4 linked regions of the Homo sapiens genome follow. The protein of the gene in region 2 purifies or fractionates together with the protein of the main gene of each other region. This does not show direct contact. Each region holds a gene or a part of one and is shown on either strand. Other genes may lie near its edges.

The links. The genes of interacting proteins can lie anywhere in the genome.
Region 1: the proteins of SLCO4A1 (region 2) and SMCHD1 fractionate together in Homo sapiens (co-fractionation; one large-scale study listed by BioGRID). This does not show direct contact.
Region 3: the proteins of SLCO4A1 (region 2) and DNAJC10 purify together in Homo sapiens (affinity purification with mass spectrometry; one large-scale study listed by BioGRID and IntAct). This does not show direct contact.
Region 4: the proteins of SLCO4A1 (region 2) and ALDH18A1 purify together in Homo sapiens (affinity purification with mass spectrometry; one large-scale study listed by BioGRID and IntAct). This does not show direct contact.

The regions. Positions count from the first base shown.
Region 1 is NC_000018.10:2,693,726-2,697,225, reverse strand, and holds part of SMCHD1 (structural maintenance of chromosomes flexible hinge domain-containing protein 1), read right to left. Parts: intron 2,700-3,500; coding exon 2,533-2,699; intron 195-2,532; coding exon 104-194; intron 1-103. UniProt on the Homo sapiens protein: Non-canonical member of the structural maintenance of chromosomes (SMC) protein family that plays a key role in epigenetic silencing by regulating chromatin architecture.
Region 2 is NC_000020.11:62,645,503-62,649,002, forward strand, and holds part of SLCO4A1 (solute carrier organic anion transporter family member 4A1), read left to right. Parts: intron 1-3,458; exon of another isoform or gene 3,459-3,500. UniProt on the Homo sapiens protein: Organic anion antiporter with apparent broad substrate specificity.
Region 3 is NC_000002.12:182,757,757-182,761,256, forward strand, and holds part of DNAJC10 (dnaJ homolog subfamily C member 10 isoform 1 precursor), read left to right. Parts: coding exon 1-69; intron 70-1,080; coding exon 1,081-1,134; intron 1,135-1,403; coding exon 1,404-1,551; intron 1,552-3,500. UniProt on the Homo sapiens protein: Endoplasmic reticulum disulfide reductase involved both in the correct folding of proteins and degradation of misfolded proteins.
Region 4 is NC_000010.11:95,608,577-95,611,711, reverse strand, and holds part of ALDH18A1 (delta-1-pyrroline-5-carboxylate synthase), read left to right. Parts: intron 1-269; coding exon 270-456; intron 457-1,419; coding exon 1,420-1,515; intron 1,516-3,135. UniProt on the Homo sapiens protein: Bifunctional enzyme that converts glutamate to glutamate 5-semialdehyde, an intermediate in the biosynthesis of proline, ornithine and arginine.

The sequences.
Region 1 (3,500 bases), on a different chromosome or scaffold from region 2:
AGAAGTTGTCTAATTATCAAGTGTTTTTTATTATCCTGAGTCATTTGGAACTGGAACAAATATCTCATAATTTTTATTATTTTAAGATGGATTTTTCTCTTACTTCAATATCAATATTGTTGAAAGGTTCAACTTCTTTTGATGTTCGTATTTCATTTCCTTTTGGGCCATGAATATAGTAGTGATAAATATGCCTAAAATAGAGAAGAATAATTTTATACTTTTAATTCACATAAAATTATAGTTAATGTAATCTTCTATCAAAATATTTTAACACTATTTACTAGGTATCAAGCACTTTATTAAGCATTTTAAAATACATATTCCATTTAATGGTAAAAACAATTGAGATGCAGGTATTACTGCATCTCATTTTACAGATATAGAACCTGGGGTGCAAGAAGTGTATGTAAGTTATCTGACATCACAGAATAGAGTTAGGGAGCCGTGGGCTTCAACCCAGACCTTTCCAACTTCAAAGACCACATACACCACTTCCAAGAGGAATAATTCATCAAATAAATATAAACTAGACAGCAAGAGTCTATAATTCTACTTACCAGGTACGTTCCAGAAAGGACTCAATTATCGGTGGTAAACTGGATTAGGTATCTAATCTCAATAAGAGAATACCATTCCAGAACAGCAGTCCCCAACCTTTTTGGCACCAAAACCAGTTTCATGGAAGACAATTTTTCCAGAGATGGGAGTTGAAGGGGGGTGATTTGGGATGAAAATGTTCCACCTCAGATCGACAAGCACTAGAGTCTCATAAGGAGCACGCAATATCTCACATGCACAGTTCACATTAGGGTTCGTGCTCCTATGAGAAATCTAGTGCTGCCAGTGATCTGACAGGAGGCGGAGCCAGGTGGTAATGCTCACTCGGGCCCACCACTCACTGTGGGGCCGGGTTCCTAAAAGGCCACAGATGGGTACCAGTTCACGACCGGGGCGTTGGGGACCCCTGTTCTAGAACATTCATCTCTCCTCTCCTATAGCACTGAGACAATCTTACCCTAAGATTCCAAAAACAAAACTAGTAAGTTTGACACCATCTCACTGAAAACCAACATTTTGGAAATAACACCTCTTTATTTTTTCAGAAAAGGTTAAAAAAGATTATATTTTGGTAACATTGTTCAGGATTATAAAATACCACGTCTTTATTCGTGAAATAGAAATTTGCAATATTTCTTCATAATCCTTCATTAGAGCAAGAGTATATTTAAATTATGTGTTAATGTACACTGAGTTCCTTCAATAAACTATAAAATAGCTAATAAAATATGTACTTGAAGAAAACTGCAAAGTCCTACTTAAATACCTTGGGTAACAGGGATAATAAACAACTTCAACAAGAAAAAAGGTATTCCTAAAACCAAATTTATTTTCCCATAAAAAAATTTTAAAATTCTCTTAGCGTATAATTACGTATAAAATTGAGACTCTCAAGAACAATAGCCTTTTGGGTAAATGTAAAAAGATACATTTTTAAAATATGAATTTTGAGCAGATGTACCCATTTTGCAAGTCTCAGTAATTCATACTAATGCAAATTAGGGAAACAATACAGTAAATCGTATGTATCACATAGCTATAAAAAAAAAATTTTAGGCCGGGCGCGATGGCTCACGCCTGTAATCCCAGTACTTTGGGAGGCTGAGGTGGGTGGATCACCTGAGGTCAGGAGTTCAAGACCAGCCTGGCCAACACGGCAAAAACCTGTCTCTACTAAAAATACAAAAATTAGTTGAGTGTGGTGGCACGCGCCTGTAATCCCAGCTACTCGGGAGGCTGAGGCAGGAGAATCACTTGAACCCAGGAGGTGGTGGTTGCAGTGAGCCAAGAGTGCGCCATTGCACTCCAGCCTGGGCAACAAGAGTGAAACTCCGTCTCAAAAAAAAAAAAAAAAATTTTTTTTTAGAGCCATTAAATAACTATTCCTCTGATTTGGTCTAATGGAATATAGAGTCCCTACAAGTGTTACTGGAATAAAAACACAATGATTATTTTCAGTACTAATGTCATATAGGCACATATGTACGTATATTTTTTATTTTAATAGGCTTGATGCATTCATTCACTTGATAAACATTTGAGCATCTACCATGTAGCAAGTATTCTTCTAGAAGACATTGGAGATACAGCAGTGAATTTAACAACAAAAATAAATATATATGGTATGGAAGATTACGACAGGTCCTATGGAAAAGAAGCACAAAACGGGGTCATGGAAGTGATATAGTGCTCAATCTGACAAACTGTGAAGTTCTTTTTTAATTTTATAATATTGTCAAAATCCTGTGCCTCAAATAATGCTCAGTACACTAGAGGTGATCTATAAATATTTACAGAATAAATGAATAGAGAGCTGTTTTAACACCAATATCAGAGTACTGGATAATACTAAAGGGAAGAAAATGAGACAGGAGCAAAACGGATACCAAAGAGGCTTCAATATATCTGTAATGTTTTCTGCCTTAAAAAAGTTAAGTAGCAACATTTCCTAAGCCAAATATAATTACTTACGCTAACTGTCGTGTCCAAAGGTGGAAATAATTTTTCAAGTACTGTATGTGTTCTGGTTGTACCCCTGTGATAACCACAGCAGTAAAGCTATCTTTTTCCTTCTCCTCTATGATAAGATGATGTAGAAATCTTTCATCATCATTTGTAATGTGAACAGAATCAGAGGGCTACAAGAGTGAACAGAAATACAACAGATTAAATCATCTAAATTATAATTATACAAATAGCTATTGCATCAAATTTTAATGTGATTTACTTGGAGTTTCACAAATAGGTTTCAGAAAAGCTTTGGAGGAAACTGGCCCAATACAACAAACTGGCTGAGTATGTGACAACACTGTGAAGACAAGGGAACTTTCACACAGACTGCTAAACTAGCATGCATAAAGAGCACCCTATCTTATAATGCTAAACCGATTTTAGAATCATAAACGAAAAGGTAAAGACAAATACTGAGTTTTAAAATGCCTTAAAAAATTGAGGACACTTACCCCTAGGGTAGAATGAACGCTTGCTTGGGAGACCTACCACTTAACTTGGTCAGGACCAATGCCCAGCCCTCCATGTTCAAGAAAACTACAGGGCAGGCTGGACCCAGCTAGCTAAGCCCAAACACATAGTGCTTAAAAGTAAAATCATCCTGGACACCAACCCACTTTCAGAGAATATCTAAAACTTATGGAAGGGAGTTAGTAGGGGAATTTGAGGATAAAATTACAAACTTCTCCATCTGTAGTATGAATCTATGTTTTAAAAAATTGCAGGCCGGGCGTGGTAGCTCACTCCCGTAATCCCAGCACTTTGGGAGGTTGAGGCGGGCAGATCACCTGAGGTCAGGAGTTTAAGATCAGCCTGGCCAACAAGCCGAAACCCCATCTCTACTTAAAATACAAAAGTAGCCAGGCGTGGTGGTACACGCCTATAAACCCAGCTACTAGGGAGGCTGAGGCAGGAGAATCGCTTGAGCC
Region 2 (3,500 bases):
CACCCTCATCCTCACCCGCAGCCTCACCCTCAGTCCTCAGACACTGGGGTCTCCGGCTGTCTCCAACCCTTCAGTTCTTTTCAGTAGCCTCCTTCCCACCAGCATCACACAGAATTAGACCCTGGGACTACATTTCTGGCGGAAGGTGACTGCTTTTTCAAACCACGTGCCTTCTGCAGAAGCCGCTCCCCACGTAGCCCAAGCGTAGGGTGAGACTTGGCACCAGTGGCTGGGGTCGCTTTTGGGTGCCAGAGAGCCCAGATTCCTCTCCCTCCCACGCGCAGCCAGGCCCTTCCTGCCCACGGACCTTGCCTTTTCTTGGTGGTTTTTCTAATCTGGCAAGCCTTGGGGGGCACCTGAGGCATTGCCCCTCTGGCCCAAGCCGCAGGGAGAGCTTGCGATGCTTTGGGTGGCGTGTGTCGTCCAGTCTGCCCCAGGCTCACTTGGGGCCCTTGCATTTGCCACTGGACTCTGCCTTTCGGGAGGCGCTGTGGACCTGAGATTTGGACCCATGGGCCTAGGAGGCCACCTGGGAGGAGAGTGGCCCAGCTGTGCCAGGCAGGTTCCTCATCTGGACAGAACCTGCTCCCTGCAGCCTCTCAAGCTCCCCGAGGGCCCTTCTGGGTCTTGTCTCTCCCACACATTGGGGGTCAGGTTTGAGCCCCTTTGCTGGCGGACCTCTGAGCTGCCCGCCCTTCCCTCCCACCACCCGCCCTGCCTCCTGTGGTGCACAGGGCTCTCCTGGAGGAGGGAGGTCCTGGGCATCCCCTGCCTCCTCACCTTCACCCTCAGGAGTCCCAGAGCCCTGGCTGCTCTGCACAGCAGGCTGGGAAGCAGGCCCTGTGCCCAAGGACTAGCCTGAGAACTGGGGAGGTCCTTTCCTCTTCCCCAGAGGACAAAGAGAGCTGTGAACACCACGGGTCTGTAAAGGGGTCCCCCCACATGCAGGAAAACATGAGTTGTGGCATCACTTACGCCTTCACTCACCAGTAGCCGAGGCACAGCGGGGGTCCTGAGCATGGGCAGGGCAAGCCACTTCCACCCCAGCCATGGAAGGAGGCTGAGGAGGCCAGGGCAGCAGTGGGGACCTGCGGCAGGCAGGGCCTGCAGGGCTCCGGGGCCGGACAGGGTGGATTTCCATTCTGAGTCTGTTTCCCATGAACTCCAGTGCTGACTGGGCCCACTTTGAGTAGGACGCTCAGTGGCTCATTCTCATTCTCATGATGTCTCTGTTATGGGTGGAAACTGAGGCAGAGAGAGGCCCGTGACCTGCGTGGCTTGGAGCCAGCCTCCGTCTTCTTCTCAAACATGCCCTTGAATGGCAGGAGAGTTTTCAGTTCCATGGATGGGATGATGAGTCGGAAGGAAGAGTAAACCTGCACACACCCGTGGCTTCACCCGTCCTCCCCACGCTCCCAGGTTCAGTGGGTGGAGACTGGGTGCAAGCAGGTTGAGGGACAGGTCCTTCTGGGCTGGCCCTGCTGCCGCACCCTGGCTCCCTCTTGCTCAGACAATCCTTCATTGTCGGCCCCATACAAAGCAATGGCTTCCTGCCTGCTCGCCTGTGCGAGGTCACCAGGTATGCAAATTGGGGTGTACCAGGCACAGCTGAGGCCCCCATATGCTGATCCCAGAGTCTGTGCCTCAAGCTAAAGAAGTGAAAGCTCCTTTCATTCATTCATCCAGCTTGAGGAAGAGACCCTGGAGTGAATTTGGAGATAGAGGAGAGAGTCCCAGGTGTCTTGGGGGGCTGGTGTGGCAGGGGAGGCAGCTGAAGATGGTGTGGGGAGCAGGCAGGTGCTCAGGGCGGGGCTGGGTGCAGGGCAGGCATGTGGCTGTGGCTGGCAGCCTCAGAGCCGTCAGGTGCCAGGAGGAGGGACTCGGCTTTGCCAGGCAGTGCCTGGGCTGGAATCTGAAGAGAAAGGAGAACTGAGACCCTATGGTCCTGCCTGGCCTCCAAATTCTGAGTGGGGCCTGGAAGCCGGGACTGGGACATCCCCTAATGTGGAGGGGTGCTACCCACCCAGCCCAGCTCCAGGCCTCCCTGGGGACATTTGCTGGGCCACAGTAGGTCAGCCAGGCCAGGCCCAGGGGCTGGCAAGCTTAAAATAGTTTTCTCAGAGATCCTGCGTCCTTTCCACGCACTGCGCTGAGAGCGCTTTGCAGGGAGCCAGGCTGGGAAGTAAGTGCATGGGGCCTAGGGAAGTAGGTGGGCTTCTAGAAGTGGCACAGGCCGGGCTGTGTCAGCTGCCCACACACGGGGATACAGGCTGGCACCCCAGTTCCCACAGTCTGGGCTGTGCCAGCCACCCGCACGTGGCCACTAGCTCCTCCCAGGTCACTGTCCTGGCTTGAGAGGAGGGGGAGGAAGAGGTCAGCCGGATTCGCCTCTAAAAGACCCTAGCAGAGGAGTCAGGGCCTCCTATCCCGGAGATGCAGCTGACTGACCAGGCCAGCATGAGGAAATCGGAAGAGAACTCTGGCCCCCATGGCCTCCTCCTAAAATAGCGGGCACTGACCCATACACAGGCGCACACGCACGCATACACCCTCCCCAGGCCTGCCCCCAGCCGGAGGCTCCAGGGACACATTATCCCCCGGCTGATCGCCTTGGCCTAATTCACACCCTGGCTGCCAAGGCCTCTGGCAGCAACATCCCCCCTTCCTCCCCTGCGGGGTTGTTGTGGGTTAGAGCAGGGACAGGGCCTGAGGGGGCTAAGCTCCCAGGGAAAGGGCAGCTGGCTCTCTAGATGCACCGGAGGGGCGGGGTGGTTTGCGTTTCTCTCGGGCTGAGAGCCACCTAAGGCTCCGCCTCAGATGTTCTCCCATGGACAGAGGCATCAGGGCAGTGGGGAAAGGATGGGCCGAGAGGTGAGTGGGTGCCCTGGGGCGGGGCAGCCACAGGGGGCCTGAAGTGGCTCACGGGCGGGGCCACCAGTCAGGGCTCCGGGCCTGGGCACATGGGCAGGCTCTGCTTCCAGGGGCTCCTTCCCACCTGCCGGCTGCATGGGAGCCGTGTGGCCGGAGCCCCAGGGGAGACCTTGTCCCTCATTCTGGAGCAGCCGTCAGGAGTACAAGGCCATGGGAGAGGACCCTACTCCATGGAGGTGATGGACCCTCCTCCCGTGATGGGGCAGATTTCAGTAACTGTGTGTGCACAGGAGAGCTCAGCTGGTTCAGGCCTCCAGAAGGTTCCTGGGCAGCGATGGTGGTGGTGTGCTGTCAGAGCCTCCTCCCTAAGCCTGGCTCCCAGGGCCTTGGCTGATGACTGGAATTCACTCCAGGCTCCGGGCCTCTTGTCCCCACCGGCCAGGCGGTTCTGATTCGCAGCCATGGGCAGCTTTTGCACCCAGCTCTCGAGTGACCGCCCCTGGGCTCCTCGTGGGTGCGACAGTGTCCTGGGAGTCCCTGAAGCCCAGGTTTCCCACATAGCAGGCGTTAGGAAGTCGGTACCAAAGTATGGAAGGACTGGCTTGTATTAGTCTGAGTTATCCAGAGAA
Region 3 (3,500 bases), on a different chromosome or scaffold from region 2:
GGAAAACGTTCAAAGATACCCTGAGATAAGATTTTTTCCCCCAAAATCAAATAAAGCTTATCATTATCAGTAAGTATTCTCTCATATTTGAAGACATTTATTATAATTATTTAATTATACACTTAACAGTTAAGTTACCTGAACAAAATAAAAGTTAACCCAACAAATATTTATTGGGAGCCCACTACGTAAAGATAGTTTGTTAATGAACATTTCAGAAGATGAAAAGGGAGTATTGAACAGTCTCACTGTGCATAAAGCTTATAGTCTAGACAAAAAGATAAGGAAAGGAAGAGCTAACATTTATTAAGTCCTTAAACACCTTATTTGGTTTCAGGTACTATATTAGATACTTTACTCACCTTATTTCCAATAATCCTCACATATGCTCTGTGAACTAGGAATTACTACCCTTCCTACTATTACAGAGAAGTAAACTGTGATTCTCAGACCTTAGAATCCAAGGTCTAGGAGTTATCTAAGGCTTAGATAACTTCCCCAAGTCACACAGCTGCTAAGTTGAAGTTGAGGTTTGAACCCAAGTCTGTCTCAGCACCCATGCTGTTTCCACAACACCACGTGGTATTTCAGGTAGAAAACTCAAATGTAAGGTACATATGATGAATGTTATTAAACAAGTAAAAATGAACCATGGATTTCAAGAGAGGAAAGGGTCACAACTATGAGGAAATTATGAAAGGCTGCATTTTGTAGGTAGTTTTTGACATGTGTCTTTAAAAATGGGTAGGAATTTGACAGACAGTAATAACTTGAATAAAGATTCAGAAACTAAAACCCTTGGACATTCTGAGTTTCGCAATTCCCATAGGTCTACAGGAGATGTCCAGTAGACAGCTAGACATTCTGGGCTGTCTGGGGCACAAAGATACCAAGACTAGAGAAAAATACATTTGTGAGGCCTTATAACCAGAATTTGTAGCTAGGTATATTTGAGAAGAGAGATACCAGATGAAATCAATCAATATAACTTATTTTTTAAATTGCTACAATAAGATTGTTTTCTGAATACATCCAATAATAGAGAATCCTATTTACAACTAACATTTTTTCTTCTCTCAGCAGTTACAATGGTTGGAATAGGGATGCTTATTCCCTGAGAATCTGGGGTCTAGGGTGAGTAATTAAAATATATATCATTGTATAAAATAGATTCAAAGCCATTTACCCCCCTTTTATATCAATAGTTAAATTTACTGTGGGTTAAGGTTCTAGCATTTTAAATTACTTAGTAAAGTATTATATTAACCAAGATAGTACTGTACTTTATTACATTGCCCTTCCTTGACATCATTTTTAACTTAGAAAGTATTACAATATTATTGCATTTCATATGTTTGCTTTGGTTTTATATAATGAAAAATGATTTTGATCATTTGCCACAGATTTTTACCTCAAGTATCCACAGATCTAACACCTCAGACTTTCAGTGAAAAAGTTCTACAAGGGAAAAATCATTGGGTGATTGATTTCTATGCTCCTTGGTGTGGACCTTGCCAGAATTTTGCTCCAGAATTTGAGCTCTTGGCTAGGGTAAGTCATACCTGTCTTAAATAAGTTGTAGCCACATTCATGTTTTAGTAATTAGATAAAACATTGTAAGTATGTAATTTTTAGGTTTTTTTCTTAAATGTTTCCTCTGAATTTAAAAATAGCTATTATATTTCTATGACTGTAATGGTTGTAGTAGATTTCCTCTTTCTTTGTTAAAGCTTTTAGCTAACATCTTCTCTATCTTGGTAGACATCATCATCTACTAGCCATAAAAGCCAGAAACGTCTCTTTCTTCTCCCTCTTGTCTACTTTCTCCTCCCCACCCCAGTACTCTGTTGCCCTCCAGGCAGTTACTAGATTGTGTCAGTTTTATCCCCTAAATGTCTTTCAAATGTCATTTCTTATTCATCTCTACTGCTAACCTGTTTCTTCAACCCTTTATCATCTCTTGTCTAGACTTAACCATATTTGCCTTTTAAGTGCAGTCTTCCCTTGATATACTCAGGGGATTGGTTCCAGGAACCCCCATTCCATACCAAAATCTGTGCAGCTCAGGCCTCACAGTGGGCCCTCTGTATGCAGGGTTTCACATCCTATGACTATTCTGTTTTCCATCTGCAATTGCTTAAAAAAAAAAATTCCCAGTTCAAGCAGTTCAACACAGTTCAAGCCTTTGTTGTTCAAGAGTCATCTATGGTATTATACTGTCTACCTTTGTCAGTGCTGCCCTGGTGATCTTCTAAAATATTTCCCTCTCTGACTTACTAAGTTTCTTAATATGCATACATTGACTTCAGGTGTCTGATATGAGCTCTATCTCTATTGTCCACCTCACACCTTAGATTCCAGTGTAACAGAGTACTCCAGGTTCTCTGAACATGTGTCCTTATTTACATGCCGCTCCCTCTCTCTAAAATGCTCTGTCCTTACCTTGGTCATCTGTATTTTTTCTCCTCTTACTGCAAAACTCAGCTCCGATGGCACTGCTCTATTCTCTGCCCTTCTCAGTTAATCAGTGTCACCTGGATATGTTATCAAGTGTACTGATACAGTGCATATTAATTCTTTATTTATTATTACTTGAAAGATATTTAATTTGACCAGAAATAAAAGGAGCTGGATACCAATGGAAATAATTAGTTGTAGCAATTTTGGGTTTTGTTCGGTTGGTTGGTTTTATTTTTCGGTATAGCATTGTCCATCTTCCTTTGTAAATGGCTGTCTCTTCCTGAGGGCAAAGTCCATGTTTTATTTATTTTTATATCCTCAGGGCCTAACTCAGTAAATGCTTATATAAAATTAAACTGAATACATACCCTCAATGCAGTCTGAGCTTTTGGTGTTTCTTTCTGTCGTAACAGTCTTATTAGTGACCTAATCCAGATTGATAGCTTTCTTGCCTCCATAACTCGAGGAACTCTTGCCACTAGTGTTGGTATAAAACACTCAACTGGAATGAGAAAGTCAGCTCCAGTTCCACCAGTTCACACTAAAGCTTAGCATCCCAGGCCATGGGAATTTTTTAGCAGAGGGATTTTAAAGGTCTTACTAGCTATAAAAGATTATTTTTGTTATTAGCTGGTGCATCAGATAAGAGGTTTATTCTTTCCATTCTAATCTTCTTATGCTTCCTTCTGTAATAATTCTGCTTTACTCCATTTCTCATGTACTAAAAACTTTAGTTATAAACTTTGTAATGCAACTCTATATTGTATCTAGTAGAAAATTATTAAACATGAAAAAGACCATTTATTCAACAAATTTTAAGTACCAAATGAAAAGCCATTATGCTAAGTAGTAGGGCCACGTAACTCCACATGAAAGAAAAGGAAGATGAAAAGAAAGAAATTCCATGTCTTTAAGGAGATTTTAATCTAGTGGAAAGAGAAAATGGAAATAAATATAAGTAATACAAGATAATTGCTACAGTAAAATTAGAATGAAGCTGGAACAGGGGTAGAAGGGTGTCAGTGATGCCAGAGAAGGAT
Region 4 (3,135 bases), on a different chromosome or scaffold from region 2:
GCGTGAGCCACCATGCCCGGCCCACCTTGCACATCCTTAACGTTCAAGGCTTCCTGCTTCAATCCCTGTTCCAACTGTCTTGAGGGCCCATTGCTGGCAAGTGGCCAGTCAGATCATGCTGGAGGGAGGAAAGTAGGACTAGTTCAGTTGTTGAGGCTACAGGAGCCACTTTGGGCTGTGGTTTTACAGGCTCACCTTTCTGTTCTATCCTAGAACTTGCTTATTTCAGTTGTTTTTATGTTGTTGCCCCTGGACTTCCTCTGTTCCAGGTAAAAATTCATGCAGGCCCCAAATTTGCCTCCTATCTGACCTTCAGCCCCTCCGAAGTGAAGTCACTCCGAACTGAGTATGGGGACCTGGAATTATGCATTGAAGTAGTGGACAACGTTCAGGATGCCATTGACCACATCCACAAGTATGGCAGCTCCCACACGGATGTCATCGTCACAGAGGACGGTCAGTGTCCAGATGCTTCCCGCATACAGTGTCTGCCTTTGCTGCTTTCTGATCCTGCTCCTCTTAGCCCCCCTTGGGCTGCAGAAAAACATCATTTGAGTAGGCTTATGGTAATGTTTAGTAGTGGTTGCATTTGGTACTTTGATGAGTGCTTTCACATCACTTTATTATATTGTCACAGCTGGAGGAGGAGGGGCAGGGATGATTAGCTCTGCTTCGAAGATGACTAACCCTGTCAGAGGCACTATCATTTAATGCGTGCAGCAAATCTTACAAGGTAGTTAAAATAAACCCATTTTACAGCTGAGGAAACCAAGGCAGAACCAACTCTGCACATTCATTCATTCATTCATTTATTCCACAAATATGTATGCAGGGACACTCCTGGGTGTCAGATACTGGAGCCTCAATGGTGGAGGATGCCAGTAGGGCCCCAATGAGGAATTTACAGTCAGCTAATTAGGGCACCAGAGCAGTACCACCCGTATTAACAGCCAACATTTACCAAGCACTCACTGTGTGCTAGGCACTAGCATGAGTACTCCCCAGGTGTTTCATCCTCTCTACAACCCTATCAGCTAGGTCATGTTGTAAGTCCCTTTTGACCCAGACACAGAGAGTTTTGTACACCTGCAGAAGGTCACAAAGCTAGCAGGTGTACAGCTGGAGTTCAGGCCTAGGAAGTCTGGCTCTGGAGCCCATAAGTAGGAAGTTTAGGCAGGTCACCTGCATGGGAGATCTGGATTCCAACTCAGTCTTTCCACAACACCGTGATTGATGAAGCTAACTTGTCTTCTTCCTGTTGAGATTTTTCATAAGCCTGAGTATTTAATACGTGAGAACACATGGAGAGGCCCCAGTGGGGACCCAGACCCTGCCCTGATCTGTCACCAGTCAATGGCTGGAAACAGGGATGTTCTCTGGGTATCATCCTAACTTGGTTTCTCCTTCTTCACCCTGCAGAAAACACAGCGGAGTTCTTCCTGCAGCACGTAGACAGTGCCTGTGTGTTCTGGAATGCCAGCACTCGCTTTTCTGATGGTTACCGCTTTGGACTGGGTAAGAAAGACTCTGGTTGGGAAGAAAGAAGTTCCTTGTGAAGCACTGTGTGGTCTAGGGGTATGTTGAGGTGGGAAAGACACCTCCCCTTGACTGTCACATGCTTGGTCAAGATAAGAGAGAAACAGGCTGGGTGCCGTGGCTCACGCCTGTAATCCCAGCACTTTGGGAGGCCGAGGTGGGTGGATCACCTGAGGTCAGGAGTTCGAGACCAGCGTGGCCAACATGGTGAAACCCTGTCTCTACTAAAAATGCAAAAAATTAGCCAGGTGTGGTGGTGCATGCCTGTAATCCCAGCTACTCAGGAGGCTGAGGCAGGAGAATTGCTTGAACCCGGGAGGCAGAGGTTGCGGTGAGCCCGAGATTACGCTACAGCACTCCAGCCTGGAGGACAGAGTGAGACACCATCTCAAAAAAAAAAAAAAAATAGAGACAGACTTCTGGCAAGGTAGGATTATCAGGGAGAATAATTAATGAAACCTCCCATGAGTTGGTGGAAGGCCTATCTTCTAAGCATTTCACATGCTAAGAAGGCAGGTACTTGTATTCATTTTTCAAAGAGGGAGAATGAGATTCAGAGAAGTATAGTAACTTGCCCAAAGTCCCACAGCTGGCATTCAGACCCAAACTTGAGCAAGTCCAAAGCCTGGGTTCTCCCGCTACAGCGTGGGCAACCACAGCCTGCCTTTTTACACAGGCTGCGCCAGAGGTACATGCTGTGTCCCTTGAGAGCACTCCTTTTACAGACTTATTTCGTCAAAATGGCACAGCCAGGTTGCCTCGGAGATAGGAAACCCCACAATGGTAGGACAAAAGAAGGTGCCGTGGGCCTAAGTACCAGCATCAAAACAAACAGGCCAGCCAGAAGTACAAGGTTACCTTCTACAGCAGACCTTGAAATAAAAAGCTTCAGAAGGGCACTTCTGTCCCTTTCCATTAGGTATAAAATTTCCAGCCCTCTGTCGTGTTGGGGTTATTTGGACAGTCTCTCGTTTTCAGGGGTACCAGTATATAAAACTCCAGAACGGGCGCAGTGGCTCACGCCTATAATTCCAGCACTTTGGGAGGCCAAGGCGGGCAGATCACCTGAGGCCGGGAGTTGGAGATCAGCGTGACCAACATAGAGAAACCCCATCTCTACTAAAAATACAAAATTAGCTGAGCATGGTGGCACTTGCCTGTAATCCCAGCTACTCGGGAGGCTGAGGCAGGAGAATCGCTTGAACCTGGGAGGCAGAGGTTGCAGTGAGCCGAGACCGCACCATTGCGCTCTAGCCTGGGCAACAAGAGCTAAACTCCATCTCAAAAAACAAAACAGACAAAAAACCTCCAATAATACATTTATGACACGTTTTCTGAATATTTGAGAATTATTTCAACCACTCAAAACATTTTAGGCCACGGGCAGTGGCTCACACCTGTAATCCCGGCACTTTGAGAGGCTGAAGCAGGAGGATCTCATGAGTCGGGGAGTTCGAGACCAGCCTGGGCAACGCAGCGAGACCTCCTCTCTACAGAGATGAAAAAATTATCCAGGTGTGGTGGCGTGAGCCTGTAGTCCCAGTTACTCAGGAGGCTGAGGCAAGAGGATCCCTTGAGCCCAGGAGTTCGAGGCTGCAG